4 linked regions of the Homo sapiens genome follow. The protein of the gene in region 3 purifies or fractionates together with the protein of the main gene of each other region. This does not show direct contact. Each region holds a gene or a part of one and is shown on either strand. Other genes may lie near its edges.

Region 1 (8,584 bases), on a different chromosome or scaffold from region 3:
CATATCAAAAACACAGAGGCTTCGACCTCCCGCCCTCCTGAACGCAAGTTGCTGCAGGCACGGAGGAACCTGTTACTGTTTCGTGATTCAGATGTGCAGCTAGTCGTGGGCTCTATTGCTCCTGTACTGCTTTCTAATTTCACAGCCGATAAAACCTTTTCTAAGGTCCCACAAGTTAGGGCACAGCTGAGGATCTGTATCTTGTGATGACCAGGCCAGGACAGAGGAAGCAGAGTTAGGGTGGGGAATACTACCACCAAGAACACCCTCTTCGAGTTAGATACCCCCCGCTTCTTCTTACAGGCCTCTTTGAGTTAGATACCCTCCCCCACTTCTCCTTACAGGCCTCTTTGAGTTAGATACCGCCCCCTCTTCTTCTTACAGGCAGAGCAGAAGGGTCTCCCAACACAAATAATATTCCTAAATATTTTATGTTCCTCACTTTTTGGTAGAAATTCCATAAAGGAGTGGCTGTCTTGTTTAGGTAATGAACAACATGATTGCTATGTATATACGTGTTTATTATATGCTTATTACAAAAGAAAAAGTCTTTTGCCTTATTTTAGGGCTTCCATGTAAAACCTAGTTAAAATACAAAAAGTAAATTAGAGAAAAATTCTGCTTAGGTAGTGAAAATTGATAGCAACTTATAAGCTGTATCCTTAAAAACCTAGTCACAGATATAGAATTACGTAAAGATAAAATGATAAGCCTACTTATTGGCAAGAAACAGGTTAGGCCACTTAAGCAGCATGTTTCTACCACTATACAAATACATCGGCAGGTCCAAACATTAAACCACCATTCGATTGACAACCTTTTATTTTTCAACTTAGGTAACAGTCCAAAATCAGTGTAGATTGGCGAAAAACTAGGCAAAAATAGCAAAAAGTGCAGTTTAATTTAGCAAAGGCTCAAGACAGTATGTGGAAGGAAGGTGAGATTTCCCTCCTACTGCGGCAAGGCAAGCGGCAGTTACTGCCCGACAGTAACGATGGTGTGCGCACCCCCGATGAGAATGCTGCTGCAACACAGACTGGGACGCCGCCTCCCCCATTAGACCTGCCAGCTCATTCGTGAAAATCTACCAGGAACACATCAATGAAAAAAATATGTCAAATATGAGTTCTCTGTTATAAGCAATAAAATCACAAAATCAACTCAGATTTGAAATTTAGGGTAAGCTAGGACAATTTCCTACTTTTTAATATATAGATATTTTAGATTTGACAATCGTTTCCACATACACTCAGACAGGCTTACAGAAGAATTTCAAATATCAAATAGAGAAGCTGTTAATTCACGCACGTTATGACTTCAGTTAATTCTTCCAGTGTTTAGACTTCAGAGCTGCTAATAACACTAAACTCAATACCGTGTTTGTTGAGTCTGTCAATCAACTTTGTTTTGGAAAAAGCTGCTCCAGGTGTGAAGACCCCGCCCCTATAAAACAATAACAAGAGAAAACAGTGCACTCAGCTCCTCTCCAGTCTCCTATTTCACAGGCCTCACTATCAAATTGCTACAGAACCCCTGAAAACCCAAGTCTTCATGGTAATCACGGCTACCTTTGATTCCTTCCTAAAATCAGCCAAATGAGCAAGTAGCTATTAGTCAGGAGAAACTTGCACCACAGCCAACCCTATCTAGACTGGCTCTGTTCCTGGAGATACTGTTTCCATTCTATGCATGTGTTTGGTGGGTGCACTGTGCGCCATCACCCCGAAGAACCGCTGCTGTTTACAAGGACAGTCCTCAGACTTAGGGGGATTAAAGAAAGACCCGAATGGAATAAATTTAGATAATCAATTATTATGAAAGTGTAAACAGAACTTAAATTGGATGAAAAAGAAGTTTTTAAAAATATAATAGCTAACATTCATAAATGCTAAATATTTTCAAGGGGGACCTAGGTATTTGAAAAAATTTAATTAGATTTTACTATATACAAATTTTACTTTTATTAATCCTGTTTTAGGTCATGCCTGGTTTACTTCTCAGCAGCAGGCCTCTGCTCATTTGAAAAGCTGGCCTAGTTTTAGGGGGACAGCTAAATGCTCCAGTAAGACAGTACGTCTGAAAATCATCTAGCCAGGATCCCATGGTTCCATTTATGCTGGTGTCAGTCAGGGTTACTACTGCCAGCTGGGTATAGTTAGGCACTGATTGGAAGCTCCTAGTAATACTATTAACAACAGGGACTTTTTTGAGTGGCTGACTCTGGACTTGAGGTATCTTTATAAAGGGCTGAAGTTAACTCATGGCTCTCCAACTTTTCTGTCTCCTCTCATTTACCTCCACAGTTGTTCCTCTGAGACCAACTCTGGGCTGGTAAGAAGCTGTCCTTCTCACAGTTTTAATTTACCTATATTTTTGAAGCAAAGGAACTGAACTATAAATGCTTACATGCAAACCCAAAGCCTGAAAATCAAATCAAAATAAGCTAAAATATAACATAGATAAAAAAGATCTTCTAATTGGAAGAAAACCAAACTTACGCCTTAGGCAGATGAGAAGCATCACTTAGAAGAGTCATGGCTGCCTGAACCATAGCTATGGGGGTAGCCACATAGCCAGCCTCTGCAGAAAACAGTTGATCAGGGAAAAAGAAAGGAATCATGAAGTACCCATTCAACAACATCAAAAATCAAATGGTAGATTTTATATCTTACTCTAGGTGTGCAGATTTTTTTCAATAGATACTCTGGTCACTTAACAAAAATAACATATCGAAAGTATTTATTAAGTGTTAGGAACTGTACTAAGTGCTTTAGGTCTATTAAACTCATTTAATTTTCATAACAATTATTTAAGGTCAATATTACTTTTATCCCATAGAGAGAGAGGTTAAGTGACTTGTCCAAACTAACAGGTAGTGACTGAGCCAAAATCACACCCAGGCAGCTGGTTCCAGAGTCCACACTCCACCCACTGCACTGCACTGCTTCTTGACAATCATTGAAGCCAATGATCCTAGGTTTTTTGTTTCTCTATTGTACACTGAGCCGATCCCTATCTGTATTCACACACTTCACTTAAAAACAACAAAAAAATCCTCTCAATTTTTTCTTAAAGAATAACGACTAAACATAAGTTAAAAAAATGTTTATAAACAAACGGAACATTAGCATTTATAATCCTGTCAAATAATGAAAATACAGTCAACTTACCTTAAAAAGTCAGGTGGGAATTTCAGAAAAGGGCAAGATGGAAACATACTATCATCTGGCTTGATTAAAATCCCCCGTGGGCCAGGCATGGCAATTCATGCCTGTAATCCCAACCCTTTAGAAGGCTGAGGCAGGAGGACTGCTTGAGCCCAGCCTAGGCAACATAGTGAGACCCCGTCTCAATAAAAAATTATAGCCTGTGACCTAAAAGGGCTGACAGTAATTATACTACAGTTCACAAGTGGACCTGTCTGTCTCTGACAGTAATTATACCACAGTTCACAAGTGGACCTGTCTGTCTCTGACAGTAATTATACCACAGTTCACAAGTGGACCTGTCTGTCTCTGACAGTAATTATACCACAGTTCACAAGTGGACCTGTCTGTCTCTGACAGTAATTATACCACAGTTCACAAGTGGACCTGTCTGTCTCTGACAGTAATTATACCACAGTTCACAAGTGGACCTGTCTGTCTCTGACAGTAATTATACTACAGTTCACAAGTGGACCTGTCTGTCTCTGACAGTAATTATACCACAGTTCACAAGTGGACCTGTCTGTCTCTGACAGTAATTATACCACAGTTCACAAGTGGACCTGTCTGTCTCTGCATAGTTCTGTAAAATGTACAGCAAAAGTTCTTGAACGTTTTGGGCAACATTCTTTTAACAACCTATCAGAAGCCATTCCCTTCCCTTGAAAAGTGCACGTGTGCATACATATTTTACAAACAATGTCAGGGTGTTCAGAGACTCTAAAGAAATCCTAGAGCACAGATTTGACTGACATTATAATTACACTACTTGCATATGAGATTCAAACAGGTGAATATCAACCAATCCCTTTTCCTATTAATACTAATTAAAATTTGCCATTCTGAATTACTGAATCATACTCCAAAAACAGCCAGAGGGAGGGATGCACTAATAAAATTGGATTATATCAATAATTTCAATCTTCCTTTGACAGAATAATTTTAAGTTACTTAATTTGTACAAATGTATTTCTAAAACAATTAAGCTTTAAAAAGAATATATTGTAATGGCATTGTACTTTATAGCTTAAGAGTATAAAATTCCCAAGCATTCTTAAGTGATATGTGAAATACCTGGTCCTTTCACCTGAGTACAAATTTTGATATTTGGTTTGTTCTTATCTGTACCAGTGCCTTGGCTGTATCCTTGACCAAAGAATGTCAGCGTGAATGAGGCAGCATCAATCTGTGAAGGAGAAGGCAAAGGGCGCATTTCATAAATACGTCATTTCCTCCTGGAACATAGTAAAACCGACTATTCTATTTCAAGTGAGACATTGTCAATAGATGAAAACATTATTTTATCTGCCAGAATATCCCGTCATCATTTAAGCAGGGAGCGAAAACTAATTCTTTGAAGCTGTCAGTTTTGAAGACTGGCGTGATGTTGGGGGGAAGGGGAGTGGTAAGAAATAGGGAGGAAATAAAGATGATCTGGAGATAGTTTTTATCGGGGGGCAGAATATAGAAATCTGGTTTTAGATACCTATTTGAGGCGACAAGACAAAAATAGCCAGCAAGTAATGGAAATATGGGCCTGGAGTATAGGTATATAATTGTTCCACTTAAAGATGTAAAAATTCGACTCAAAAAACTAAATTCTTGAGGACTTATCCTAGCATCTTTCACAATCACTAAATTTAGGAATGAGGTGATAAAGAATTCAATCATGATCAACACATTTTTATGAAGTATCAACTAAGGGTCAGATACCATTGAGGCCCTGAGACATAATTACTGCCTTTGCTGGAGCTTACAGTTTAGTAGGAGGAAAGGGGGGGAGAGAGAGATAAACAGATTAAATAACAATGTGACATGAACTAAAACATACAGGCATAACTCAGAGGAGGGTGTTATTAATCTACCAGGGCAGAGGGCAATGGTTCTGAACTGTATATATACACACACACAAACACATTTTAATGGTTGTTTTAAAACCCCAAAAGTAGATGGATTCCAGAAAGGAGAACCCATTATTTAAAGGGAAGAAGGGATGCAGTAGCATAGCCTTTCCAGAACATACAATTCAAGAGGTACAGACAAGGTCAGACACACATGCCACACCTGTCCCATCTCCTGCTATGGCGCCCACACTAATGGGTTCTAATCCTCTCTCAGGCTACACACATTGTCCGACCCAGCATAGTCTCTGGGTGGCTACTATCAATTAATCAAAGTTGGATGAAAAATGAATCCTATGTGCTATCCAGAACTAGATCATGAAGGGTCTAGGATGGCCTCACATCTCTGAAGATGGACTTTCGGCCATTTGTGCTCCAGGGGTGGGTACCAAAACCACTCAAATCTGGAACCTTCTTCCTTCCTCCGCAGTGGTGATTCTCAACCCTGGCAGCACATTAGCATCACTGGGCAGATTTAGAGAGCCCCAGTGCCCAGGCTGCATTCCAGACCAACCGAACCAGAGTCTCTGGTCATCTGTTTTGGGTTCTCTTCCAAAGTTGGGAACCACTGCTCTATGCTTTCAGGCCCCACTCCAGACCTACTGAATCAGAACGTCCAGAAGCAAGATGAGGGCATGTGTCAGTGAAAAAAGCTTCCTAGGTGATTCTTTTTTTTTTTTTTTTTTTTTGGAGAAGGAATCTCGCTGTGTTGCCCAGGCTGGAGTGCAGTGGTGTGATCTCAGCTCACTGCAAGCTCCACCTCCTGAGTTCAAGCAATTCTCCTGCCTCAGCCTCCTGAGTAGCTGGGACTACAGGCGTGCACCACCATGTCCAGCTAATTTCTGTATTTTTAGTAGAGATGAAGTTTCACCTGTTGGCCAGGCTGGTCTTGAACTCCTGACCTTAAGTGATCCACCTCCCTCAGCCTCCCAAAGTGCTGGGATTACAGGTGTGAGCCACTGCGCCCGGCCATGATTCTGATATATGAAATCTCAGTTAAGAATCACTGCCAAAGCAGTGGGCCAGGAACATTTTATAAAGAAGGCAATGACAAGGTCAGATTTTGTGTCTTAGAAAGATCTCTTGGACAGCAGTGGGAAGACAGATTAGAAAGAAACCGTAGGAATGCTACGAAAAGTTCAAGCAAGAGATGGAAGCCTGCACTACCAACCACGAGACAGAAGCCTGCACTATCCACAAAGTAAAACGGCAACCCAAAGAATAACAGAAAATATTTTCAAGTCCTTCTGTTCATTTTTGAATTAGGTTGTTTTTTGTTATTGAGTTCTAGGAGTTCTCTATATTTTCTGGATATGAATCTTCTGTCAAATATATGATTTGAAAATATTTTCTCCAAAGAAGACATACAAATGGCCAATAATTGCAAATGAAAAGATGTTCAACACTAATAATCATCAGGTAAATGCAAATCAAAAATACAATGAGACACCACCTCACGGCCATTACAGAAAATAACAGATGTCGGTTTGGAAGCAGAGAAACTGGAACTCTCGTATACTGCTTGTGGGAAGGTAAAACGGTGCAGCAGCTCTGCAGAACAGTTTAGTGGTTCCTCAAGAAGTTAAATATACAATTCACATACGGTCTAGCATTCCATTTCTGAGTATATGCCCAAAAGAATTTAAAGCAGAGTCTTGAAGAGGTATCTGTACACCCATGTTCGCAGCAGCATAACTGGCAATAGCCAAAAGCTGGAGGCAACACATGTGTTCACTGATGAATGAATGGATACACAAAATGTGATCCAGACAGGCAACAGACAATCATTCACCCTTAAAGAAATTCGAACACATGCTTACAATATGGATGAACCTTGAAGACCTTACGCTAGGTGAAATAAGCCAGTCACAAAAAGACAAAGACTGATTCCATTTACATGAGGCACTTGGAGTCATCAAATTCATAGAGACAGAAAGCGGAATGCGGTTGCCGGGGCTGGGGGAGGGCGGAAATGAGGAGTTATTGTTTCACGGGTGTAGAGTTTCAGTTGTGCAAGATGAAAAGTGTTCTGGACATGGATGGTGGTGATGGCTGCACAAAAAGATGAATGTACTTAATACCACTCAGCATTTTTAAATGGTTAAGATGGTACATTTTATGTTTTGTGTATTTTACCACAATAAGAAGAAAAAAGAGGCCGGGCGCAGTGGCTCACGCCTGTAATCCCAGCACTTTGGGAGGCTGAGGCAGGTGGATCACGAGGTCAGGAGTTCAAGACCAGCCTGCCCAACTTGGTGAAACCGTGTCTCTACTAAAAATACAAAAAAATTATCCGGGCGTGGTGGCGCATTCCTGCACAGTGCCTACATTAAGTGCACAGGCGGGGGATTAGCCTTGTACAGGGAACATATCATCCAGAGAGGAGGAAAGAAGGTCGGGATGGAACAATGATGCTACGTTAAGTGCACAGGCGGGGATTAGCCTTGTACAGGGAGTATATCATCCAGAGAGGAGGAAAGAAGGTCAGGATGGGAACAATGATGATAGGTCTGAGAGTAGGAATTTGAGGGGATACAAAACAGTGCTCTCAATTATTTTAGTGAGGTAGGAGTTGGGATAATTTACAGATAGGGAAGACAGCTGCAGTTGGGTAGATTTTGAAGAAAGCCACTGAGAGGAGATAAGAGGCAAGACTAACGAAAAGGAAAAGAATCAGCAAGTGATGCTAACATTCCACAGAGGGGGAAACGGGAACTTGCTGCTACCATCTGTTCAGCAGTGGGATTTCCCCCAGGAGTGCCTGGTGTCAAGGAGATGAAAGCTAATGACCCAAGGCCTGAGCCAGGGTTGGGATCTGTAAGCCAAACGGTAGAAAATGAGGCAGTCCTATTGTTGGGGATGCTGGACACACAGAAATTCACTTGATCCCCCGTCGGAATCCAGGGTATGTGGAAGAGGAAGTGAAACTGGGGGCAGAGGAGGCACAAAGGAAAAGATAACAGAGGAGAAAAATGGAGGAAGAAGAATATTTGAGATTTCTGGAAGTGAAGAGAACACAATTTCTGGAGCTAAATGGCTGGGTTCTCATCCCAGCTGGGCCATGTACTACCTGGAGAAACTTGGGCAAGTTTCTTAGCCTCTGTGTGCCTCAGTTCTCTGATGTGTAAAATGGAGATAATAATAATACCTACATTCAAGGGGTGTTTGAAAAGATTGAATAATCTAATTTACATAAAGAACTTAAAAGAGTATCTGAAACATAGTGCCCTGTCAAGTGTTAGATGATACCGTCATTGCACAAAGAAAAATATTATTTTAGTGTCTTAATACAAAAGAAATTACCTGTTTTTGTGTTGGGCCTTGTTTTGAAAAATAGCCAAAGGAGAAGAACCATGGGAACTAAAGGGAAAAAAAAACCGTCAGTGATATTTTTTTAAAACTCATGGAAAATACTTCTAATAAAAATAATCTAATTTCATAAAATCTTACTTACTTTTATGAGAAGTTGCCTTCCAA
Region 2 (9,355 bases), on a different chromosome or scaffold from region 3:
GGGTAGTCTTTTCCACTTTTCCCCTGTCCATCTGTTTTTTCTTCTTCTTTTCTTTTTTTCTGAAAGAGACTCTCACTCTGTTGCCCAGGCTAGAGTGCAGTGGCACGATCATAGCTCACTGCAGCCTCCAACTCCTGGGCGCAAGTGATCCTCCTGCCTCAGCTCCTGAGTAGCTGAGACAAACGGCACATGCCACCACACCAGGCTAATTAAACAAATTTTTTTTTTGTAGAGATAGAGTCTTATTATGTGGCCCAGGTTCTTCTTGAACTCCTGGCCTCAAATGATCCTCTCTCCTGAGTCTCTCAAAATGCTGGGATTACAGGCATGAGCCACCCTGCCGCAGTGTTTCTTCTTTTTGTCAAAGCACTTAAGATCTTTTTGTCATGAAGTTAGTCACAGTAGGGTTACTTTTTGTTTCATAGTTAATGACCAAAAATTTCAGGAGGAAAAATTACTAAGACCTCTTAAGTATCTTTTAAAAATATGTTGAATGCTTGAAAGCTTTTTTCAGGCAAAGAGCTCCTTTCTATCTGAGCCATAAGAATATGCTAAAAACAGTTCATAAGGATGGAATCTTCAGTTCCCATGTGTGACATTCTCAGGTGCATACTTGCAGTGTGGCCATGTCAGCTATGTGGCAGAGACCTAGATTCACTAGTAGTGTGACAGGCTAACTGTAAGCTGGTTGTCTGCTTGCCTCCAGTGTGTTCATTCTGTGAATGAAATGTGTATTTCTTTTGTTATCTAAAATGTTCTTTCTCCCCGTTTCTAGCTCTCGTGCTCATTCCCCCATGATCGCCGTAGGAAGTGATGACAGTAGCCCCAACGCAATGGCCAAGGTTCAGATTTTTGAATATAATGAAAACACCAGGTCAGTCCTGCTTTGGTTTTAATAATTGTTCAGAATTGCATTTAATTTTTTAAAATGTTATTTCTTTATTCATTTACAGAATTATGTGTCATTCATCATATGTTTGCTGATTTACTATAATATACCAAGTTCTGTGCTAGGCTGTGATAGCACAGGCATGAGTGATAAAGAGGAGAAAGTAGACCAGCCTGGCCAATATGGTGAAACCCCGTCTCTACTAAAAGTACAAAAAATTAGCTGGGTGTGGTGGCAGGTGCCTGTAATCCCAGCTACTCGGGAGGCTGAGGCAGGAGAATCGCTTGAACCCAGGAGGCGGAGGTTGCAGTGAGCTGAGATTGCGCTATTGCACTCCAGGCTGGGCAACAAGAGCGAAACCCTGCCTCAAAAAAAAAAAGAGGAGAAGGTAATTGATCTCCCAGTATGATGTACCATCTTGCAGTGAAACAAAAAATAATAGTAAAAAAGGGTGATGAATCTTATGAAGTGGAAGAATTAGGGTGCTAAAGAGCTTATACCTGGGGAACCTAATCTGGTTTAGGGGCTAGGAAGGTTCACCTAGAAGATGACCTATAGGGTGAGTAGAAGTTAGCCAGACAAAGAGGGCAGAAGCACTCCTGGTGGAGAAAACTGCATGTGGTAAGGCCGTGAGCAAGAGAGAGGGAGTATATTTATACTGTTGTTGGAACATGCTGGGCAAAAATGAGTGTGGAGAGAAATAGGCAAGACTTGTATCTATAAGAAGTAATGTCCATTGTTTCAGTTTTATCTTACAGGTGATGTGAATAGGGAATAATGGGATCAGATGGATCTTCTATAGGTGTGACAAGTGTTTTGGAGGGAAACATGGTGGATTCACGGCTAGGATGCTATGAAGACAGTCCAGGTGGGAGAGTACGTGGCTTTGGGATAGTAGTAGCAGTGGCATGGAGATAAGTGGACAACTTGAGAATAATTGAGAAGTGGTATCAATAGGATCTGGTGATTGATTGGATTTGAGAACTGAACTGAGGAAGAAGGGGGAAGGTGTTAAGATGATTTCCAAGGTTCTGGCTTAAGAGTTCAGTGTGTAATTTCAATGTGTGTAATTTCTTGAGATAAGGAACTCTGGGAACAAGGCAGATTTGGGTAGAGTGTGGCAGCATGTGAAGGTAAGTTAATTTTGGTCATGCCGAGATACAAGTGTCTGCAAAGCTTCTGAGAGCCAAAAGCAGTGTCTCAGAGGCACACTACTCAGTCTTACAGGAGAAGAGAGCACTTGTCAGGTGATCAGATGGGCTTCGCAGGTACTAGACAAAATTCTTGAGTCTAATAGTCAGATCTTAGGCAGGGCCAGCAGTAGAGAAGGAACTAGTGTTACTCCCGTGGGCTCTGCAATTCCAAATGTTACCATCTGGGTTACCAAGGGGATCTTACACCTTCTACCTTCCTAGATTGTTGGTGTCTGCAGAGAGGCTCAGTCTTCAACAGTGCTGTCCAGTAGAATGTGCTGCAGTGATGGGAAATGGTCTTAGAGATTTTCATGGAGTTTTAAGCTGTAAAAACTATGAGCCCTATTAATAGCACATTTTATAGAGGCTTCATGAAGTGTTGGGCTTGTTAAAGTAAATTTCAACCTGAGCTGAGCAGAATGAATATGTAGACATAAGCCCAAAAACGTAAAAGGTGTATCATTGGCCACGCGAGGTGACTTATGCCTGCCATCTCAGCACTTTGGGAGGCTGAGGTGGGTGGATCACTTGAGTCTAGGAATTCAAGACCAGCCTGGACAACATGGTGAAACCCTTTCGCTACAAAAAGTACAAAAATTAGCTGTGGGGATGATGGCGCATGCCTGTAGTTCCAGCTACTTGGGAGACTGAGGTGGGATGATCACCTGAGCCTGGGAGGTCGAGGCTGCGGTAAATCAAAATTGCACCACTTCACTCCAGCAGTGTCAAAAAAAGATTTTTTTCTAAAACATAGGAAAAGAAAATATTTCATAAGTAAGATTTGAGTAAAAAGATAAATAACTTGCAGTTAGTTCTGAAAGAAAATACAGGCAAATAGAAATTACCTATTTTTTTTTTTTTTGAGAGTCTCACTCTGTCACCCAAGCTGGAGTGCAGTGATGCAATCTCAGCTCACTGCAACCTCTACCTCCCGAGTTCAAGTGATTCTCCTGCCTTAGCCTCCTGAATAGCTGGGATTACAAGTGCGTGCCACCACGCCTGGCTAATTTTTGTATTTTTAGTAGAGACGGGGTTTCACCATGTTGGCCAGGCTTGTCTTGAACTCCTGACCTCAGGTGATCCACCCACCTCGGCCTCCCAAAGTGCTGGGATTACAGGTGTGAGCCACCACGGCCGGCCTAGAAATTACCTAAGTATTTCTAAATTACCTAAATAATCCAATGTTAAAAATAATCTGAGATTGCATTTGAGTCTAGTCTCTTAGCTAACAGAATAAATCTAGACTGGGGGATTCCCTGTATTATGTCATGTGACAAGGAGCCTGAGGGTGGAGCAGTTCTGGGGTTAGGTAGTGACTCAGTTGCTCAATGATGACATCAAGGACCTACCTAAATATTTTCCACTTTTTTCTTGCTGTCATGCTTAGTACACTGGTGATAGCTCCCTCTTATGATCACAAAAGAGCTGCACAATGTCAGGTTTTACATGCTAATACAAAGAAGGGTATTCTAGAAAAAAACACCTTTCCTAGAAGTATCTTAGCAGGCTTCTTATCAGGTGCTGGCGGCTGGAGTTTGGTCATCCAGCCATGCCTTAGCTGCAAGAGAGTGAGACAGCAAGTGTCTGGCATTTTCAGCATCAAAAACGAGGGGAAGTGGTGTTGGGGAAAGAGTGTCTGCAGGTGGGGGTGTGTGCTATTGACTTGGGAAGTAATCAAACCTATTAAGTTCAGCACTTTTTGGAGTTCTGTTGCTGGTTCTTTGAGGTAAGCATTGTTTGAAGGTTCTTATTTAGATTGAACGTGGAGGAGATGTGATAGTGGACTATGTAGTATCGTTATTAATACCTGTTTATCTTTTTCTCTCTTTTTTTTTCTTTGAGATGGAGTCTCACTCTGTTTCCAGGCTAGAGTGCAGTGGCGCAACCTTGGCTCGCTTCAACCTTTGCCTCCCGGGTTCAAGCGATTCTCCTGCCTCAGCCTCCCCGGTAGCTGGGACTACAGGCACCCGCCACCATGCCCAGCTAACTTTTGTATTTTTAGTAGAGATGGGGTTTCACCATTTTGGCCAGGATGGTCTCCATCTCTTGATCTTGTGATCCGCCCACCTCAGCCTTCCAAAGTGCTGGGATTACAGGTGTGAGCCACCACGCCCGGCCTGTTTATCTTTTTCTAAGTAGTATCACCATTTAGTAGACAGGAGACATTTGCCAAATTAACCAGTGTTGGATATATTTGTTTTTATTTGTGAGTGAAAATACTAAAACAGATCTAGGATTGATAGTGATAATAGAAGTGCCATGTGTTTATATAGGTTACCGGGCATTTTTATGTGTGTTATGAAGTTTGAATCCTACCAACCACCTTGTAAGTAGAGGAGACAGCTTTTATTAACACTGTTTTACAAATGAGAAAACTGAGACCAACAGAGTGAATGACTAGTCTAAGGTCCAGAGTCAGGACCAGAAACAAAGTCTTTTTTGTTCATTCTCTTTATTTACACTCTCATTGAGGATCTTATTTGGCTCCTTCTGATAGGAGAAGCTTTAGATAACCTTAATTATTTTTATTTTTATTTTATTTTTTTTTTTGAGATGAAGTTTCACTCTTGTTGCCCAGGTTGGAGTGCAATGGTGTGATCTCGGCTCACCGTAACCTCCGCCCCCTGGGTTCAAGAAGTTCTCCTGCCTCAGCCTCCCAAGTAGCTGGGATCACAGGCATGTGCCACCACACCCAGCTAATTTTGTAGTTTTAGTAGAGATGGGGTTTCTCCATGTTGGTCAGGCTGGTCTCGAACTGTCGACCTCAGGTGATCTGCCTGCTTCGGCCTCCCAAAGTGTTGGGATTACAGGCGTGAGCCACCGTGCCCAGCCACCTTAATTAATTACAATATATAGCTTGCCTCAGGTAAGAAAAAAAAAATCTCACTTTTTCAACATTTCATAAGCAGCATGGACTGTACTAAGAGCTGAAGGAGCTTACAGCGCCTAGGATATGGATGAGGATGGTCACCTGCTAGAGATGGCAGCACATACCTGCCTGGTAGGGTGAGAAGTTTCAGCTGATGATGTTTGAGCATGAATCTTGAAAGACAGAGGGTGTTCTGCAAGCAGAGAGGAGGCAGGAGCAAAGACAAGGGCGTGGGGTCGAGGCGGTGGGTGGGGAGGCTAATGCAGGAGAGAGACAGGGGAGGGGCAGGCCAACAGGCCAGGCAGATTTTGGAGAGTGGTGCTTGCCAAGTCTGATCTCTATCCTGGCAGCATTTGGACTTTTGCAGGGTCCAGTAGAGTCACAAGGTTGTATTTACCTTTTAGGGAGATGACTTTGGCAGCTGTGTGGACTGGGAGCAGGAACTCAGGGATGAATGCAGTAGCCCACTATGATGTGGAATGAGGACATGCACTGTGGCGTGGGATGAAGAGGGACCGGGGAGACTTGTCTAGGAGGCACCAGCTGTAGGTCACGTGAGTCTTGGTTTCTGACCTAGCTGATGGTAGTGCCACTTGTTGAGATGGGGACTGAGCAAAGAGGAGTGAATGTGGTAAGCACAATTTATTTCAGACATATGTTTGAGGTGCGTTTGGAACATCCAGGTGGGGATGTGTAAAGGCAGATGGATAGAATAGCTGAGATTAGTTGTCTATTGCTGCATGACAGCATTATCACTCAGTGGCTGAAACAGTACAGATTCGGTATTTCAATGTCTGTGGGTCAAGAGTCAGGCCAGACTGGGAAAGACTCCACTTCGGAGCTCACCTGGTTGTTGGCAGCACTCGTGTTCCTGCCACGAGACCCTCCCTTGTGTCCTCACAGCATGGCAGCTGCTTCTGCAAGGCCTGAAAGCAGGAGAGTCTTCTCATGAGGCAGGCGTCACAGGCTTGTGTGTTGTAGTCACACGGGTGTTGTCCCACCACCTTGCCATGTTCCGTCCCCTGGGTAGAAAACAAGCCACGGGCCCCACTCACACTCATGGGGAGGAGCCTCCACAAGGGCGGGACCACCAGGAGGTGCGGGTCATGGGGGCACTTAGAATCTCTCTGCCACAGTACGGGTGTTCCTCCCACTTTACGGAGAACTTGCTGAAGGTCGTTACAGCCTGGATTCAAACACGTTCTGGCTGCAGCATGTGTGCTCTTAGCTCCACCTGTCCTATTTCTGGCCTTTGGTAGAAGGCCAGAATCTATCCCCTGAATTGCAGGGGATAGATTTAGGAATTATTGGTTTATAGGTACTGAAACCATGGGTGTAGAAACCATGCATATTCTGGCCGGGCGCAGTGGCTCACGCCTGAATCCCAGCACTTTGGGAGGCCGAGGTGGGCAGATCACGAGGTCAGAAGATCGAGACCATCCTGGCTAACATGGTGAAACCCTGTCTCTACTAAAAAATACAAAAAAAACAAAAAACATTGGCCGGGCGTGGTGGCAGGCCCCTGTAGTCCCAGCTACTCCGGAGGCTGAGGCAGGAGAATGGCATGAACCTGGGAGGCGGAGCTTGCAGTGAGCCGAGATCACACCACTGCACTCCAGCCTGGGCGACAGAGCCAGACTCTGTCTCAAAAAAAAAAAAAAAGCATATTCTGATTGTGTAGGCCCCAGGAGGGGGCTGAGATTCTGGATTTCCCAGAAGCTCCCAGGCTGCTGCAGACCACACAGTAGAAGCAAGGATGTGGATGAGATTGCTTAGGGTGATTGGATGGGTGAGAAAGATCAAGGAGAGAACCTTGAGGTGTGTACCAGCTTGGTAGAGATTTTAGGAAGAATGTTGGGATGAAAAGAAGGTCAAGTGAAGAATGCTGTAGAAAGGTGGGATGGGGAGATGTCTCCACCCAGTCTCCTACATGCAGGGGGTTAGGTGCTGCCGTTCTGTCCAGGATATTCAATCTTAGAAGAACCTAGTAGAAAACTCTGATCTACCACTGCCTTCATTATCCTCTTATTCTGTATTTATAGATAAAGAAATAGAATTGCAAGGATGAAATAGCCTTTGCATAGTTTCCTTTTATTATCACTTAACTCAATTCCTGCTGGGCGCAGTGGCTCACACCTGTAATCCTAGCACTTTGGGAGGCAGAGGCGGGTGGATCACCTGAGGTCAGGAGTTCAAGACCAGCCTGACCAACATGGTGAAACCCTGTCTCTACTAAAAATACAAAATTAGCCAGGCGTAGTGGTGCACGCTTGTAATCCCAGCTACTCAGGAGGCTGAAGCACGAGAATCACTTGAACTCAGGAGGCGGAGGTTTCAGTGAGCCAAGATTGCGCCATTGCACTCCAGCACAAGAGTGAAACTGTCTCAAAAAAACCTCAATTCCTGTTACCAGCTTTACTTTTTTATTTACATTCAAATACTTAGGCAATGTGTTACTCTTTTCCTAAGAAAGATGTTAGTGGCTAATAAATCAAGCCCTTTTTTATTTTTTATTTTTGCAGTTGAGTCTTACTGTGTTGCCCAGGCTGGAGTGCAGTGGCGTAATCTCAGCTCACTGCAACCTCCGCCTCCTGGGCTCAAGCCATCCTCCCACCTCAGCCTCCTGAGTAGCTGGGACAATGGGTGTGCACCACCATGCCCAGCTATTTCTGTATTTTTTGTAAAGATGGGGTCTTGCTGTGTTGCGCAGGCTGGTCTTGAACTACTGGGTTCAAGCAATTCTCCCACCTCAGCCTCTCAAAATGCTGGGATTACAGGTGTGAGCCACTGTGGCCAGCCAAGACCTTATTGTAATTAAATTTTTATTAAAGCGTTTCGAGCTAAATGTACATTATTAAAGGAGGAAACGTGGGAGGTTGTATTAATTTCCTAGGGCTGCCATAACAAATTACCACAAATCAGGTGGCTTAACACAGAAATGTATTCACTCACAGTTCTGGAGGTCGGAAGTCTGAAATCAAGGTGTTGGGGCTGTGCTTCCTCTAGAATCCTTCCTGGTCTAGTCCAGCTCCTGCTGGCTCCGGGAGTTCTTTGGCTTGTGGCAGCATAACTCCAATCTCTGCCTCTGTGTTCACATGGCTGCCTCCTCTCTGTCTCTGCGTTTCTTCTCTTCTTTTTAAAGAATACTTACTGCACGTTGGATTTAGGACCCACCCTAAATCTCGGATGTCATTCTGAGGTCCTTAATTACATTTTCAAAGACGCTATTTTTGAATAAGGTCACATTCACAGGGTCTGGGGGTCAGGACTTGGACATATTCTTTTGGGGGCTGCTGTTGAGCCCACTACAGAGGTGAGCACTACATGATTGTGAGCAGTGTGAAAAAAAGGTGAGATGCAGTGATGTGTGGATTTTTGCACATTTTATTTCTAAAATGTTAATGTCAATTGTTTTTCCATTAGGAAATATGCAAAAGCTGAAACTCTTATGACAGTCACTGATCCTGTTCATGATATTGCATTCGCTCCAAATTTGGGAAGATCTTTCCATATTCTAGCAATAGCGACCAAAGATGTGAGAATTTTTACATTAAAGCCTGTGAGGTGAGTTTTAGAAGCATTTATGAATTTGAAAATACTCTTGCCTTCTGATTACCTTTGTTTGTGGAGGAGAGAGTAGAGGTAACTATGATTTGGTTTATATTTCTGCTCTGGAAGTTTTACTTAAAAATGTAAACTTTGAAATGTTTTTTAAAAATGGTCTTTTACAGTTACTTTTTTTTCTTTCTTTTTTTTTTTATTGATCATTCTTGGGTGTTTCTCCCAGAGGGGGATTTGGCAGGGTCATAGGACAATAGTGGAGGGAAGGTCAGCAGATAAACAAGTGAACAAAGGTCTCTGGTTTTCCTAGGCAGAGGACCCTGCGGCCTTCTGCAGTGTTTGTGTCCCTGGGTACTTGAGATTAGGGAGTGGCGATGACTCTTAACGAGCATGCTGCCTTCAAGCATCTGTTTAACAAAGCACATCTTGCACCACCCTTAATCCATTCAACCCTGAGTGGACACAGCACATGTTTCAGAGAGCACAGGGTTGGGGGTAAGGTCACAGATCAACAGGATCCCAAGGCAGAAGAATTTTTCTTAGTATAGAACAAAATGAAAAGTCTCCCATGTCTACTTCTTTCTACACAGACACGGCAACCATCCGATTTCTCAATCTTTTCCCCACCTTTCCCCGCTTTCTATTCCACAAAACCACCATTGTCATCATGGCCTGTTCTCAATGAGCTGTTGAGTACACCTCCCAGACGGGGTGGTGGCTGGGCAGAGGGGCTCCTCACTTCCCAGTAGGGGCGGCCGGGCAGAGGCGCCCCTCACCTCCCGGACGGGGTGGCTGGCTGGGCGGGGGGCTGACCCCCCCACCTCCCTCCCGGACGGGGCGGCT
Region 3 (9,355 bases):
CTCATATTGGCTGCGGCTGGCCTTAATTATCTCTCCAGGCCTTCTGATCTCCTGCAAACTTAGATGTATATATATTTATATGTATTTATAACAATTCAGGCAGAACAGGGAGTTAGATCTGTAACTGAACAATCGATTGAGATAACTCACTACCTTTGGACTAACTTCTTGCAAACTTTTTTTTTCAGAAGGAGTCTCCCTCTGTCACCCAGGCTGGAGTGCAGTGGTGCGATCTTGGCTCGCTGCAACTTCCACCTCCTGGATTCAAGCGATCCTCCTGCTTCAGCCTCCCTAGTAGCTGGGACTACAGGCATGCACCATCATGCCTGGCTAATTTTTTTTTTTTTTTTTGAGATGGCGTCTCACTCTGTCGCCCAGGCTGGAATGCAATGGCGTGATCTCGGCTCACTGCAACCTCCGCCTCCTGGGTTCAAGCGATTCTCCTGCTTCAGCCTCCCCAGTAGGTGGGAGTACAGGCGCCCGCCACCATGCCCAGCTAATTTTTATATTTTTAATAGAGATGGGGTTTCACCATGTTGGCCAGGATTATCTCAATCTCTTGAACTCGTGATCTGCCCGCCTTGGCCTCCCAAACTGCTGGGATTACAGGCATGAGCCACTGCACCCAGCCTAATTTTTGTATTTTTAGTAGAGAAAGGGTTTCACCTGTTGGCCAGGCTGGTCTCAAGCTCCTGATCAGAAGTGATCTGCCCTCCTCGGTGCCTCCCAAAGTGCTGGGATTATAGGCGTGAGCCACCATGCCTGGCCCTCTTGCAAACTTCTTGATGTTACAGTTCTTATGCCTTTTTTCTGTTGTGTTTTTCTCTGAACTGTGATCAAAATAAGTAATTTTAGGGGGAGCTGTTTCTTCTATTTCACCAGCAAGTTGTGTATAAAGAGACTTTGCAGCTTTTACTGGTTGCATGGAATAGAGCTTGTAGGTACTAGTCTATGGCTAAAGAATGGGGAAGAGGGCCAGTACACTGGCTCACGCGTGTAATCCTAGCACTTTGGGAGGCCAAGGCAGGTAGACTGCTTCAGCCCAGGAGTTCGAGAGCAGCCTGGAAACATGAACCCCATCTCTATTAAAAATTTTTTGTTGGCTGGGCGTGGTGGCTCACCCAGGAGGCAGAGGTTGCAGTGAGCAGAGATCACACCATTGCACTCTAGCCTGGGTGACAGAGCAAGACTCTTTCTCAAAAAAAAAAAAAAGGAATGGGGAAGAGGCCAGGCATGGTGGCTCACACCTGGGAGGCTGAGGCGGGCGGATCACTTGAGATCAGGAGTTCAAGACCAGCCTGGCCAGCATGGTGAAACCCCATCTCTACTAAAAATATGAAAATTAGCCAAATATGCTCACTTGAACCCAGGAGGCTGAGGTTGCAGTGAGCTGAGATCGTGCCACTGCACTCCAGCTTGGATGACAGAGTGAGACTGTGTCTTTTAAAAAAATAAAGGCCGGGTGCCGTGGCTCACGCCTGTAATCCCAGCACTTGGGGAGGCCGAGGTGGGCGGGTCACCTGAGGTCAGGAGTTTGAAACTAGCCTGGCCAACATGGTGAAACCCCTGTCTCTACTAAAAATAGAAAAATTAGTCAGGCGTGGTTCTACGCACCTGTAATCCCAGCTACTCGGGGTGAGACAGGAGAATCGCTTGAACCCCGGACGCGGAGGCTGCAGTGAGCTGAGATTGCCCCACTGCACTGCAGCCTGGGCGACAGAGCGAGACTCCGTCTCAAAAAATAAATAAGAGAATGGGGAAGCTGACCAATGAAGGTAGTGGATTAGTGGCAGTTTCAGTAACCTGGACCAAGAGTTCTTATGTTTTATGGGTTGTAGACCTCTTTGAATCTAATGAAAGCTGTAATCGTCTCCCCCAAATGCTCAATACCCACAATTTCAGATTCATTGTTAGGGGTTTAAGAATCCTTCCTGAAGTATACAATATATGGGTTAATGGACTACACGTAGGACCTGTGGCCTAGCATCACATCTTCCCAGCACAGAATAATTATCACCCAGGTACATGTCTTTCCCAGTGACCTCTTAGGCCATGGACCTCCTAATTCTCACCCTCAGAACCCCAGAATTCTCTTTGTGTTCTGGTCTCCTTCTCTGTGCAGGTTGAGCGCATTGAGAAGAGATGTCTGGAGCTGTTTGGCCGAGACTACTGTTTCAGCGTGATTCCAAACACGAATGGGGATATCTGTGGCCACTATCCCCGGCACATCGTGTTCCTGGAGTATGAGAGTTCTGAGAAGGAGAAAGACACGTGAGCATCATGTGACCGTAGTGTACATGTCTGGGGAGTCCGTGGCAGCTAATCCCTGTGGCCAGGAAGTCTGTAGCTGGGCAGGGCAGAATCACTTTCCCCAGGTGTTAATCCTTATTGGCATTTTTATTTACTTCAAGGTTGGACAAGTCAGACTGGCAAGGTGGCATGGCATAGAATGAGGGGTTGGGAGTAACAGCCCTTGATTGCTGTTTCACTTCCACCCTAGAGCTCATTGTCCTAAGATAGCTGACTTCACACTTCACTTCTCTGAATATCAGTGTCCCTTTTTTAGAGAGTGTGAGTGGGAGGTACACTGTGTAAAGACAGGCTTACCAGCGTTTACCGTATGTAGCACTTGAGAGCCTAAGGTCTAGAGTCAGACTGCTAGAGTCAGACTGTCTAGAGTTCACATCCTGGATTCCCCTGTTGCTGGCTGTGTAACTGATGCTGGGCAAGTTACTTAACTGCTTTGTCCTTAGTTTTCTTATTGGTAATTCTCTACCTCATGTTAATTAGTCCTTTTAAGGACTAACTAAAATTTTAGAAAGTGGTAGTGCAGTCCAGATGATAAATGGGGCTGATAAAAGCCTGACATGTACGTTGTAAGAATTAGAAATAAAAGCTACCATTTATGGTGGGCCTACCAAGACCTGAGTACCTTATGTGGGTTAACAGTTTATACCAGAGCAGACACAGAATGCTTGGTGCAGGTTGTGGCCTGTAGGTAGTCAGTAAATGGTATAGTTATTTGATACTGATAAGTAATCACAGCATGAGGCTCTAGGAAGTGGTATATGTTGATCTCAAAGTTTGCTCTCCTAATCTCCCTACTTCCTGCTGATTTTAAGGGAATTTCAGGAGCCGTTGTCAGCACTATCTGTGAAATCCTGGCCCCGTGGGTGAAATGTTGTGAGGAGTACCGCAGCAGTCATGCTGCATAGTGCAGTAGCCCCTTGCTACTCAAAGCAGGGCTAGCAGTGCATTCAATAACTTGTTAGAAACGCAGAAGCTCATGCTCCAGAGCCACTGAGCCAGAATCACAGCAGAACAGGGTGTCCAGGTGATTCGAATGCACTACCAGGTTTGAGAAGTGCTGCCGTAGGCCAACTGGGGAAATGGTTAATTCTGCCTTGTGTTTATGTGCCTGGGAAGAACTGGAATTGGAAGGATGAGCAGGAGTTTCCCTGAAAATGTCCTTAGGGATCAACTCATATAGGATCTTGATCATCAGGCCAGGGAGTGTGAACCTGTGGGTTGTGTGTGGGTATCAGTGGTTTTATTGTGCTAGGAACCCCTAAGCACTTACTAAGATTATGGATTCTCGGCCTGGCCTAGTGGCTCATGCCTGTAATCCCAGCCTCCTTTGGGTGGATCACCTGAGGTCAGGAGTTTGAGACCAGCCTGGCCAACATGGTGAAACCCCATCCCTACTAAAATTACAAAAACTAGCTGGGCGTGGTGGTGGGCTCCTGTAATCCCAGCTACTCGGGTGGCTGAGGCAGGAGAATCGCTTGAACCCAGGAGGTGGAGGTTGCAGTGAGCCGAGATTGCACCACTGCACTCCAGCCTGGGCAACAGAGCAAGAGCAAGACTCTATCTCAAAAAAAAGATGACAGATTCTAGAACCTCTCCTGGGCCTTCTGGAATCAGAATTTCCAGTCTACATTCTGTGAGAGCTCCCTTGATGTCTTTTTTTTTTTTTTTTTTTTGAGACAGAGTGCTCTGTCACCCAGGCTGGAGTGCAGTGGCACGATCTTGGCTCACTGCAACCTCTGCCTCCCGGGTTCAAGCAATTCTCCTGCCTCAGCCTCCTGAGTAGCTGGGATTACAGGCGCCCGCCACCACGCCCAGCTACTTTTTTTGTATTTTTAGTAGAGACAGGGTTTCACCACGTTGGTCAGGCTGGTCTCGAACCCCTGACCTCATGATCCAGCCGCCTCGGCCTCCCTAAGTGCTGGGATTATAGGTGTGAGCCAGCACACCCGGCCTCTTGATGTCTTAAATACACTATAGCTTGAGAACCGCTGCTGCAGGCCATGGGGAGCCAGAGAAGGTTTACAGCAGAGGAACAATCCAGTAGGAGGAGTTTAAGCACTAAGCCTTAGTTTCCTCATCTGTAAAGTGGGGATGTCTATAAGAGTGCCCATCTTGGCCGGGCGTGCTGGCTCACACCTGTAATCCCAGCACTTTGAGAGTCCAAGATCATGAGGTCAGGAGATTGAGACCATCCTGGCCAACATGGTGAAACCCCGTATCTACTAAATATACAAAAATTAGCTGGGTGTGGTGGCGCACGCCTGTAATCCCAGCTACTCGGGAGGCTGAGGCAGGAGAATCACTTGAACCCAGGAGGCGGAGACTGCACTGAGCCAAGATCGAACCACTGCATTCCAGCCTGGCGACAGGGTGAGACTCCATCTCAAAAAAATAAAAAAAAAAGAGTGCCCATTTCACAAGGTTGTAGTGGGGTTCTCCAAGAAAAGAGTGTTAAGGGCTCTTGTAAATAGATCACAGAAACAGTATTACATCCTCAGTTATATAACCTAAGAACTTGGGATCGCCAAGCCTAAAGAATTGGGGTTTGTTATGGCCCTGTTATTTATGGTTCTTAGCTCTTCCTTAATTCCTCCTTCCAGAATTAGGTAAGCTTAGTTTCTTTTTTTTTTTAAGACAGAATCTTGCTCTGTTGCCCAGGCTGGAGTGCAGTGGTGCCATCTTGGCTCACTGTAACCTCTGCCTCCCAGGCTCTAGCGATCCTTGTGCATCAGCCTCCCAAGTAGCTGGAATTACAGGTGTGTGGCACCACACCTGGCTAGTTCTTGAATTTTAGTAGAGATGGGTTTTGCCATGATGGCCAGGCTAGTCTCAACTCCTGGGCTCAAACAATCCGCCTGCCATGGCCTCCCAAAGTGCTGGATTACAGGTGTGAGCCACCGCGCCCAGCTGGGTAAACTTAGTTTCCGTAAATCTTTAAGCTAAAGTTTCTGAACAAGAGGGTTTTGTTTTGTTTTGTTTTCTTTGTTTTTGCCTTGCCATTCTCTTCGTTCCCCTTCTTCCTACCCTCTTTGGTGCTGGCTGGCTGGTGGTTTTACCTCTGTGCCCTGATGATGACATTCTGATATTAAGCTCAGCTGTAATCAAGGTGGGTTTTTTTGTTTTTGTTTTTGTTTTTAATTAAGACGGGGTCTGGAATGCAGTGGCACAATCATGGCTTGCTGCGGCCTTGATCCCCTGGGCTCAAGTGATTCTCCCACCTCAGCCTCCCAAGTAGCTGGGAATATGGGCACATACCACCACTCCCAGCTGATTTTTTTTAATTTTTAGTAGAGACCAGGTCTCGCTGCATTGCCCAGGTGGGTCTCCTGAGCTCAACAGATTTCCTCACCTCGGCCTTTCAAAGTGTTGGGATTAGAGGTGAGAGCCACCGCACCCAACAGAGTGGTTCTTTTCTATGTTGATTTTATGAGTGAATCAACTGGGGATCTTTCTACAATGCAGAGATTCAGAAGACCTGAGGTGGGCCTGCGATTTGGCATATTCTAACAAGCTCTCAGGTAATACCAAATGTTACCCTTCAGTAACATAATAGTACATTGAGAAACGTAGTGGTGGTTGCCTTGTAAAAGCTTTTCCTGGAAGGAAACAAGTTTAGTGTTGATCCCTTAAAGAGACTGAAACTAGTATTTGTTGAGTACCTCTGTTTGGCAGGTGTTGAGGTTTTACTTGCTAGCTTAAGCCCTACAACTATTCAGTGAAGAAGACAGTATCACCACTCTTTTTTTTTTTCAATTTGATATGGAGTCTTGCTGTGTCGCTGAGGCTGGAGTGCAGTGGCGCAAGTGATCTTGGCTCACTGCAACCTCTGCCGCTCAGGTTCAAGTGATTCTCCTGCCTCAGCCTCCCTAGTAGCTGGGATTACAGGCGCGTGCCACCATGCCCGGCCAATTTTTGTATTTTTAGTAAAGACGGGGTTTCAACATCTTGGCCAGGCTGGTCTTGAACTCCTGACCTCGTGATCCACTGGTCTCGGCCTCCCAAAGTGCTGGGATTACAGGTATGAGCCACCGCGCCTGGCCCTCACCACTCTTTTATAGATGAAGTTGAAGCCCAGAGAAGTAATTTGCCTTTGCCGAAGATCACAGAGGTAGTAAGCAGAGTGGGGTTAAAAGCTGTATTTCCTGACTCTGTACCTGTCTGCCTTATCTTTCACCACCACGGCTCTCCCACCTTGTCTAGCAGAACCTCACAGTTAGGCCAAGGCCACTGTGGAACATGATTAACCTTAGAGGAGCTTGTTGGAGTTTGTTTTTACTTTTCACTCCTTGCAAGGCCTTAAAGTGTTACTGAAGTGATGTTGAGTGGGTGATGCCTGCTTGTTGAAAGGGGGGACTTCGGGTATGTTTGGGTGGGAAGAAATAGCATTTTTTGCTTTTTTACTGTCTGGCTTGGCTGTTACTATGATGCTGAATTAAACTGAATAGACTGAATAAAAAATAGACTGAATTAAACAGGGTAGAATTGGATTTAAGCAATGTTTTGGTCCTGTTAAGGAACCTCTCCAATTTGGTTCATCATCTGGGAATAGAAGCCTGGACAGGGATCTCTGAATAGCTAAGACATGTTTGTCAACAGTGTTCGTTCAGCTGCTGCTGTGTAGTAGACCTCAGGGATCAAGTTGGAAGCCAGATAGATGAAGTCCTTACCAGTAGGTCTAGTGGGAAACAGAGTCCAATAAAGAAGCAATAATTGTTAATAAAAGCTGGAATTAGGGGAAGTACAGGTGAGGCCCTGCCGGATAGTGGTTAAAACCATGGGCCCAGTGGCTACCCACAGGGTTTAGAATCTCAGCTACCCTGTTTACCTGTTCTGTGACTTTGGGCTAGAGATTTCATCTCATTAAACTACCTCATCTGTAAAATTGGGTAAGTGAGGACTGAGTGAGATAATGTGGGTGTAAGCTCTACTTTGTGCCTCTTATCTATTAAATAGTAGCAGCAGTAACATTTATCTCAGGAAGTTGTGGGGTACATTATAGGAACAAGCCACCCAGTTTGGTAAGTGTGGTGCCTGTCTGGGAAAGCTTCCTATTGGAAATATGTGATAACAGCATTTTCTTCTGTATTTGAAAATAGTTTGGCTGGGCATGGTGGCTCACGCCTATAATCCTAGTTACTTGGGAGGCCGAGATGGGCGTTTCGCTTGAACCCAGGAGTTTGAGACTGAATTAAACTGAATAGACTGAATAAAAAACAGACTGAATTAAACAGTCTGGGCAACATGGTGACACCTTGTCACTACAAAAAATACAAAGCATTAGCCAAGCATCGTGGCATGTGCCTGTAGTCCCAGCTACCTGGGAGTCTGAGGTGGGAGGATCACCTGAGCCCAGGAGGTCAGCTGCAGTGAACCATGGCGCCACTGCACTGCAGCCTGGGCAACAGAGGAAGACCTTGTTGGGAAAAAAACAACAAAATCTCACTACCTGGTAACATCTTGCCAGAAATTTCAGTGCATACATTACAAATGTAAATACAGAAGCCTACATTCATCCCTTCGAATGTGAGTATTATGTGCCAGACACAGCTCAGTGCTTAGCACTGCAATAAAAGAATCCTAAGGACAAGAGATAATAAAAACAGGAAAAAGTGAGAGAACAGAAACTGAATTGGTTCTTTTTTTTTTTTTTTTTAAGACGGAGTCTCATTCTGTTGCCCAGGCTGGAGTGCAGTGGCGTGATCTCTGCTCACCGCAACCTCCGCCTCCTGGGTTCAAGCAATTCTCCTGCCTCAGCCTCCCGAGTAGCTGGGATTAGAGGCGCGTGCTGCCACGCCTGTCTAATTTTTGTAGTTTTAGTATAGACGGGGTTTCACCATGTTGGCCAGGCTGGTCTTTACCTCCTGACCTCAGGTGATCTGCCGCCTGAGCCTCCCCAAGTGTGGGATTACAGGCATGAGCCACTGTGCCTGGCCAGAAACTGAATTGGAGCTTGATGTAGGGGAACCGGTAAAGGAACCACTGGCCGACCTAACAAGAAAAGGTGGGTCATTACATTAAAAGATCCTCCCTAGAGGAAAATGCTGATGTGTCCTCCACCAGGGGTGTTTTGTTTGTTTGTTTTTAACAGAAGTTTAGCCTGAGAAATCCACCTTGGTTTTGAGGCTACAACTCAACCTGGGAAAATCAGATGTAGGCATTTAGGGTTCAGAGGGCTGGTATGAGCTAAGTGAGAGTCGGTTGCAGCAGATGGTGCTGACCAGATATGTGACATCGGCCACGGGCCAAGTAAGTGGGAGGAAGGCCACTGTGGCAGTACTAAAGGTGCTCGGTTTTATATTCTTGTGGAGTCTAGTTAGGCAATTAATTGGTACCAAGGTGCCTTTTGATTTCATAGAGAAACTGGGTGAGGGGAAGGCAGCACACTCTGGTTCTCTGTGAGCTTGTGTGCCTAGGGCTGCCTGGTGGGTTGCTGCCACCCTACGGGCACTTTGCTTTTTTTTTTTTCCCCCAGACGGAGTCTCGCCCTTCGCCCAGGCTGGAGTGCAATGGCGTGATGTTGGCTCACTGCAAACTCTGCCTCCCGGGTTCAAGCAGTTCTCCTGCCTCAGCCTCCTGAGTAGCTGGGATTACAGGCACGCGCCACCACGCCAGGCTAATTTTTTTGTATTTTTAGTAGAGATGGGGTTTCACCATGTTGGCCAGGCTGGTTTTGAACTCCCAACCTCAAGTGATCTGCCCACCTTGGCCTCCCAAAGTGCTAGGATTACAGGTGTGAGCCACCACGCCTGGCCCCTAGATATATTTTAACTAAGAATTCGCAGTATTTTAAAGACTGTGTTTTTATTAACCCTAACAGCATCCAGATACATTTAAAGAGGTACCACAAGTATGTGGGAGTCACTGATTTCTTCCTTCTGGGATAATATTTGGGTGCATGTGTACAAGAGGAGCTGTACGCAGATTCCTAGAAGGATTAGGATGTGGAAGCAATTAAATTCCCTCTAGGAGTTGGTCTGAAAGCTCAACACTTTTAAGGAAGGAACATGAGTATTTTTCCTTCCTTCTACTTGGTTACTCTGTGTAG
Region 4 (5,226 bases), on a different chromosome or scaffold from region 3:
TTAGCTCCTGGCCTCAAGTGATCCTCTCACCTTGGCCTCTGAAAGTGCTGGGATTACAGGCGTGAGGCACTGTGCTCAGCCATCTATATCCATTTTTAACATGAATTAGATAACTACATTTTGCTCCACTCCTTTTCACTTAATCAGTTGAGGTTGCCTTTTTAAAACTATGATACAGTAATAAAATTGGTCTAAAAAGGCAGATAACAGAAAAGGGCAGTTTTATTTCTGTGACGTTACATATACCTAACACTGGTTTCATACAACTTGCTCCACAATGCCTTTTAAGTACTAAACATATTCAGAGGTCAGGGCTAGAAGATAACAAAATCTATTTAAGAGTTAGAGCTGAGAAGATTTCAGAAGCTTTATAAAGGCATGCCAGGAAATGTCTACAATATTTCACAGCTTGGAGGAAGCAGGCAAAAAGAAAATCAAAACAAAGCTTCCAAATCTTTACTTTGCACGGAGGGGAAACCTATCTCCTGTGATTGTAGTTGTATTTTGTTGTATAAATTGACATAAGAATATTCCTGTTGAATCGTGATTTTATCCATGGCAGTGTTTTTTCATGAGTTATTTTCCTTGTGTGTTTGTTGCAGACCCCTGTAAAAGAGCCCAACAGTGAAAATGTAGATATCAGCAGTGGAGGAGGCGTGACAGGCTGGAAGAGCAAATGCTGCTGAGCATTCTCCTGTTCCATCAGTTGCCATCCACTACCCCGTTTTCTCTTCTTGCTGCAAAATAAACCACTCTGTCCATTTTTAACTCTAAACAGATATTTTTGTTTCTCATCTTAACTATCCAAGCCACCTATTTTATTTGTTCTTTCATCTGTGACTGCTTGCTGACTTTATCATAATTTTCTTCAAACAAAAAAATGTATAGAAAAATCATGTCTGTGAGTTCATTTTTAAATGTACTTGCTCAGCTCAACTGCATTTCAGTTGTATTATAGTCCAGTTCTTATCAACATTAAAACCTATAGCAATCATTTCAAATCTATTCTGCAAATTGTATAAGAATAAAGTTAGAATTAACAATTTTATTTTGTACAACAGTGGAATTTTCTGTCATGGATAATGTGCTTGAGTCCCTATAATCTATAGACATGTGATAGCAAAAGAAACAAACAAAAGCCAGGAAAACACTCATTTTCGCCTTGAATATGTAAATGGGATTAATTTTGTCCTGTGCCTTATGTGGAAAGGAACTTCTTTGGTTTTCCTTTTTTGTTCTGGTGGAAGCATGTGCAGGAGACATATCATCCAAACATAAACCATTAAAATGTTTGTGGTTTGCTTGGCTGTAATTTTCAAAGTAGTTAATTGAGGACAAAGGGTAATGCAGAAGTGATAGCTTTGGTTTGCTGAGTCTTGTTTTAAGTGGCCTTGATATTTAAAACTATTCCTGCCACCATTTCTTCTCCTTGGCCACTTCTTCCTTGCGTCTCCCTGCATGCTGCTTTATTTGCTTCTCCCTCCCCAACCACCTCATGGTATATTTAAGAGTGAAAGGGACAAACTAGTAGGTTTGTCAAGTTTAATATAAAGCACTGATGTAACTTGCTAGGTAAACGGAAAGATAAGTTCTAACTGCCTACTATCCAATGTCAGTTAATTGGTGTCTTCCCCCCTCATTTGCTCTCTTCCCTAAAATGTGTCCCAGATGCCTTCATTTGCTGTTTTACTTCTATGTTCTGCTTTTCCTCCTCTCTTTGTTCCCTTCCTGTCTATCCATTGAGTTTATGAAATGGAAGAGTTAACTGCATGCACTAGTGTTTGGAGGGTGTTGTGGTTTGTCTTTCTAATTAGGTGTATAGCCTATTCACTTTCCTAGAATAAATCTCTTAACCTAAATTTGAGTAGTCTGCATTTTGGCAACTCCTCTAGCAGCTTGGTAGCCTAGTACAGGTTGTTTTTTTAAAAAAGGAAAAGCAGGAAGGAGGAGTGAATTTTATTAACATGTTTGCCAAATGTATTGAGATTTGGCCTCTGAAGAACACTTTTTCAGTGTTAAGTTTCTTTACCTTAAGATTCAGAAATACTTTAGAATATTATTAATTTTAAGTCCTGTCTTTACATCCTTTTGGAAAACTTGTATTACCATGGGTTTGGAAAAAGGACAACGAAAGGCTTTTCATGTAAAGATAAGATCTTTAGCTATCTCTAACCCTGTCCTTTTTTCACTGCATTTTTTCTAGTTTTGCTTCATTGCTTATCATTAGGATAGGGTAAGTGAAGTTTGCTATGCTGCTAGCATCCTAAGATGATACCTTTGTTGAAAGAATTGTGAATAGCATGATTCATTTCTAGCAGAGGCTGAGTTTAGGACAGCAGCTTCCATTGAGAAGTCTTTCTGTGTCGTGAATAGCATTTTAATGACCTCTTGGCTCACATAAGCAAACAACATAGGGACGTATCTGCTATGAAAATCCACAAATTTTTCAGATAGTGCCCTAAAAACAATTTTATATGCCTCACTGGTTGTTATTCTTAGGTTATTCCCACACTTGACTTTATCATTGTTTACTACTAGTAAAAAGCAGCATTGCCAAATAATCCCTAATTTTCCACTAAAAATATAATGAAATGATGTTAAGCTTTTTGAAAAGTTTAGGTTAAACCTACTGTTGTTAGATTAATGTATTTGTTGCTTCCCTTTATCTGGAATGTGGCATTAGCTTTTTTATTTTAACCCTCTTTAATTCTTATTCAATTCCATGACTTAAGGTTGGAGAGCTAAACACTGGGATTTTTGGATAACAGACTGACAGTTTTGCATAATTATAATCGGCATTGTACATAGAAAGGATATGGCTACCTTTTGTTAAATCTGCACTTTCTAAATATCAAAAAAGGGAAATGAAGTATAAATCAATTTTTGTATAATCTGTTTGAAACATGAGTTTTATTTGCTTAATATTAGGGCTTTGCCCCTTTTCTGTAAGTCTCTTGGGATCCTGTGTAGAAGCTGTTCTCATTAAACACCAAACAGTTAAGTCCATTCTCTGGTACTAGCTACAAATTCGGTTTCATATTCTACTTAACAATTTAAATAAACTGAAATATTTCTAGATGGTCTACTTCTGTTCATATAAAAACAAAACTTGATTTCCAGCTGTGTGGTTTGGTTTTCATTTATTTATGGAATTGGAAGATTACTTCTGAAAAAAATGTGGAATCGCAAACTCAAAGAGTTGACAAAAATGGGAAATCACTGTCAACCTATGGAAAACTGGAAAGGCAATTTCAAGAACTGTCTTTGCTGAGAAACTACATTAAAAAATAGAATTATCTCTGGGATCCTAAAGCGGAATCATCCTTGTGCCAAAATAGGAGATGCCACGATCCTAATCACACCTGGCTTACACTAGTTGGATGTGCCTAAGGCCACTACAGCTGAGGTCACCTGATTCCTCAGGGGGACCAAGCTGGGCTCCTCATACTGGAGGGTAAATCCTTGTTTTAGCAGCAGCTGGCCTCTTACTAAGAAACAAAGTATTGGCCAGGTGCGGTGGCTCATGCCTGTAATCCCAGCACTTTGGGAGGTCAAGGCGGACGGATCACGAAGTCAGGAGATGGAGACCATCCTGGCTAACGTGGTAAAACCCCGTCTCTATTAAAAATACAAAAAAATTAGCCGGGCGTGGTGGCGGGCGCCTGTAGTCCCAGCTACTCGGGAGGCTGAGGCAGGAGAATGGCGTGAACCCGGGAGGAGGAGGAGGAGGCTGCAGTGAGCCGAGATAGCGCCACTGCACTCCAGCCTGGGCGACAGAGCAAGACTCCGTCTCAAAAAAAAAAAAAAAAAAAAAAAAGTATTGGCTGGGCGCTGTGGCTCACGCCTGTAATCCCAGCACTTTGGGAGGCCGAGGCGGGTGGATCACCTGAGGTCAGGAGTTCAAGACCAGCCTGGCCAACATGATGAAACCCCGTCTCTACTAAAAATACTAAAAGCCGGGCGTGGTGGCGCATACCTGTAATCCCAGCTACTTGGGAGGCTGAGGCAGGAGAATCACTTGAACCCAGGAGGCAGAGGTTGCAGTGAGCCGAGATCGCACCACAGCACTCCAGCCTGGGCTATAGAGCAAGACTCCTTCTCAAAAAAAAAAAAACAAAAAACAGTATTTCCTGCTTTTGTTATACATAGCAACAGCCTTGTCTTTATGTGTAGGGAAAAGAAATGTTTGATCCTATATTCAGGCTTTATTAGTCAATAATAAAGATAAATATTTGTTGACAAGATTGTCTCTGCTGAAAGTATATGTAGAGTTTTTCTCAGATGCAGTGATTTTAAGAATCACATGGAGTGTTTTTAATGTTCTATTCCTTCCCCCCAACATACTTGTTTTGTTGGGACCTACAATTCTGCCTTTGCTGGGTGCAGTGGCTCACGCCTATAATCCCAACACTTTGGAAGGCCAAGGCGGGTGGATCACCTGAGGTCAGGACTTCGAGACCAGCCTGGCCAACATGGTGAAACCCTGTCTCTACTAAAAATACAAAAATTAGCCGGGCATGGTGACACATGCCTGTAATCCCAACTACTTGGGAGGCTGAGGCAGGAGAATCGCTTGAATCCGGGAGGCAGAGGTTGCAGTGAGCCGAAATCATGCCACTGCACTCCAGCCTGGGTGACAGAACAAGACTCTGTCTCAAAAAAAAAAAAAAAAAAAAAAAAAACAAACAAGATTGGTGTAGGGAAATAGGATATGGTCTCCCCCCTTAAATCGATGGTCTAGTTTAGAAAACAAAAGTAATTCATCAAGTTAAGCATATACAAGAGCCAAATAATTGTAATCTGGATTTTAATTGCTGTATTAATATATCAAGTTCAGTTGGTGAGAATGGGATTGCTTTTGGGGGGAGGAGGGACATTAATTGGTTCTTCGAAATGTCGATTCACTGGCTAGGGCAGATGGGGAGGTCATTGTAAGAAGAGACCACAGAGACTAGACAATGACAGGCCCTGGGGAGTCATGGTAAACTCGAGAGTGGCGAGAGCAGTGTGTTTGTGGAAAGCAAGTTTAGATGGATTTGAATAGGAGAAACAAGGGTTCTAGAGGTCACATGGGAAGTCGTGTTAATCAGGGTTTCAATAAGACCGGGCTAAAATGGCAGAGGGAAATGCAGGGTTGAAGGCAAAGGTAGTGTGTGAATGGGGGCGCGGTGTATTTCTGGTGAGCCTGCTAGGTGCTTTTTTGGCACTGCTCTAGGTACTTTGGGT

Evidence for each region.
Region 1: the proteins of MTMR14 (region 3) and SCCPDH purify together in Homo sapiens (affinity purification with mass spectrometry; 2 studies listed by BioGRID and IntAct, with this or other methods). This does not show direct contact.
Region 2: the proteins of MTMR14 (region 3) and SEH1L purify together in Homo sapiens (affinity purification with mass spectrometry, with the first as the bait; 2 studies listed by BioGRID). This does not show direct contact.
Region 4: the proteins of MTMR14 (region 3) and RAB10 purify together in Homo sapiens (affinity purification with mass spectrometry; 2 studies listed by BioGRID and IntAct, with this or other methods). This does not show direct contact.

What each region holds. Positions count from the first base shown.
Region 1 is NC_000001.11:246,760,054-246,768,637, reverse strand, and holds the end of SCCPDH (saccharopine dehydrogenase-like oxidoreductase), read right to left. Parts: coding exon 8,562-8,584; intron 8,468-8,561; coding exon 8,411-8,467; intron 4,393-8,410; coding exon 4,281-4,392; intron 2,581-4,280; coding exon 2,499-2,580; intron 1,444-2,498; coding exon 1,338-1,443; 3' UTR 501-1,337; downstream 1-500.
Region 2 is NC_000018.10:12,970,378-12,979,732, forward strand, and holds part of SEH1L (nucleoporin SEH1), read left to right. Parts: intron 1-775; coding exon 776-874; intron 875-5,355; exon of another isoform or gene 5,356-5,505; intron 5,506-8,374; coding exon 8,375-8,515; exon of another isoform or gene 8,516-8,516; intron 8,517-9,355. UniProt on the Homo sapiens protein: Component of the Nup107-160 subcomplex of the nuclear pore complex (NPC). The Nup107-160 subcomplex is required for the assembly of a functional NPC.
Region 3 is NC_000003.12:9,651,499-9,660,853, forward strand, and holds part of MTMR14 (phosphatidylinositol-3,5-bisphosphate 3-phosphatase MTMR14), read left to right. Parts: intron 1-2,122; coding exon 2,123-2,271; intron 2,272-8,200; exon of another isoform or gene 8,201-8,311; intron 8,312-9,355. UniProt on the Homo sapiens protein: Lipid phosphatase that specifically dephosphorylates the D-3 position of phosphatidylinositol 3-phosphate and phosphatidylinositol 3,5-bisphosphate, generating phosphatidylinositol and phosphatidylinositol 5-phosphate.
Region 4 is NC_000002.12:26,134,336-26,139,561, forward strand, and holds the end of RAB10 (ras-related protein Rab-10), read left to right. Parts: intron 1-602; coding exon 603-686; 3' UTR 687-3,119; downstream 3,120-5,226. UniProt on the Homo sapiens protein: The small GTPases Rab are key regulators of intracellular membrane trafficking, from the formation of transport vesicles to their fusion with membranes.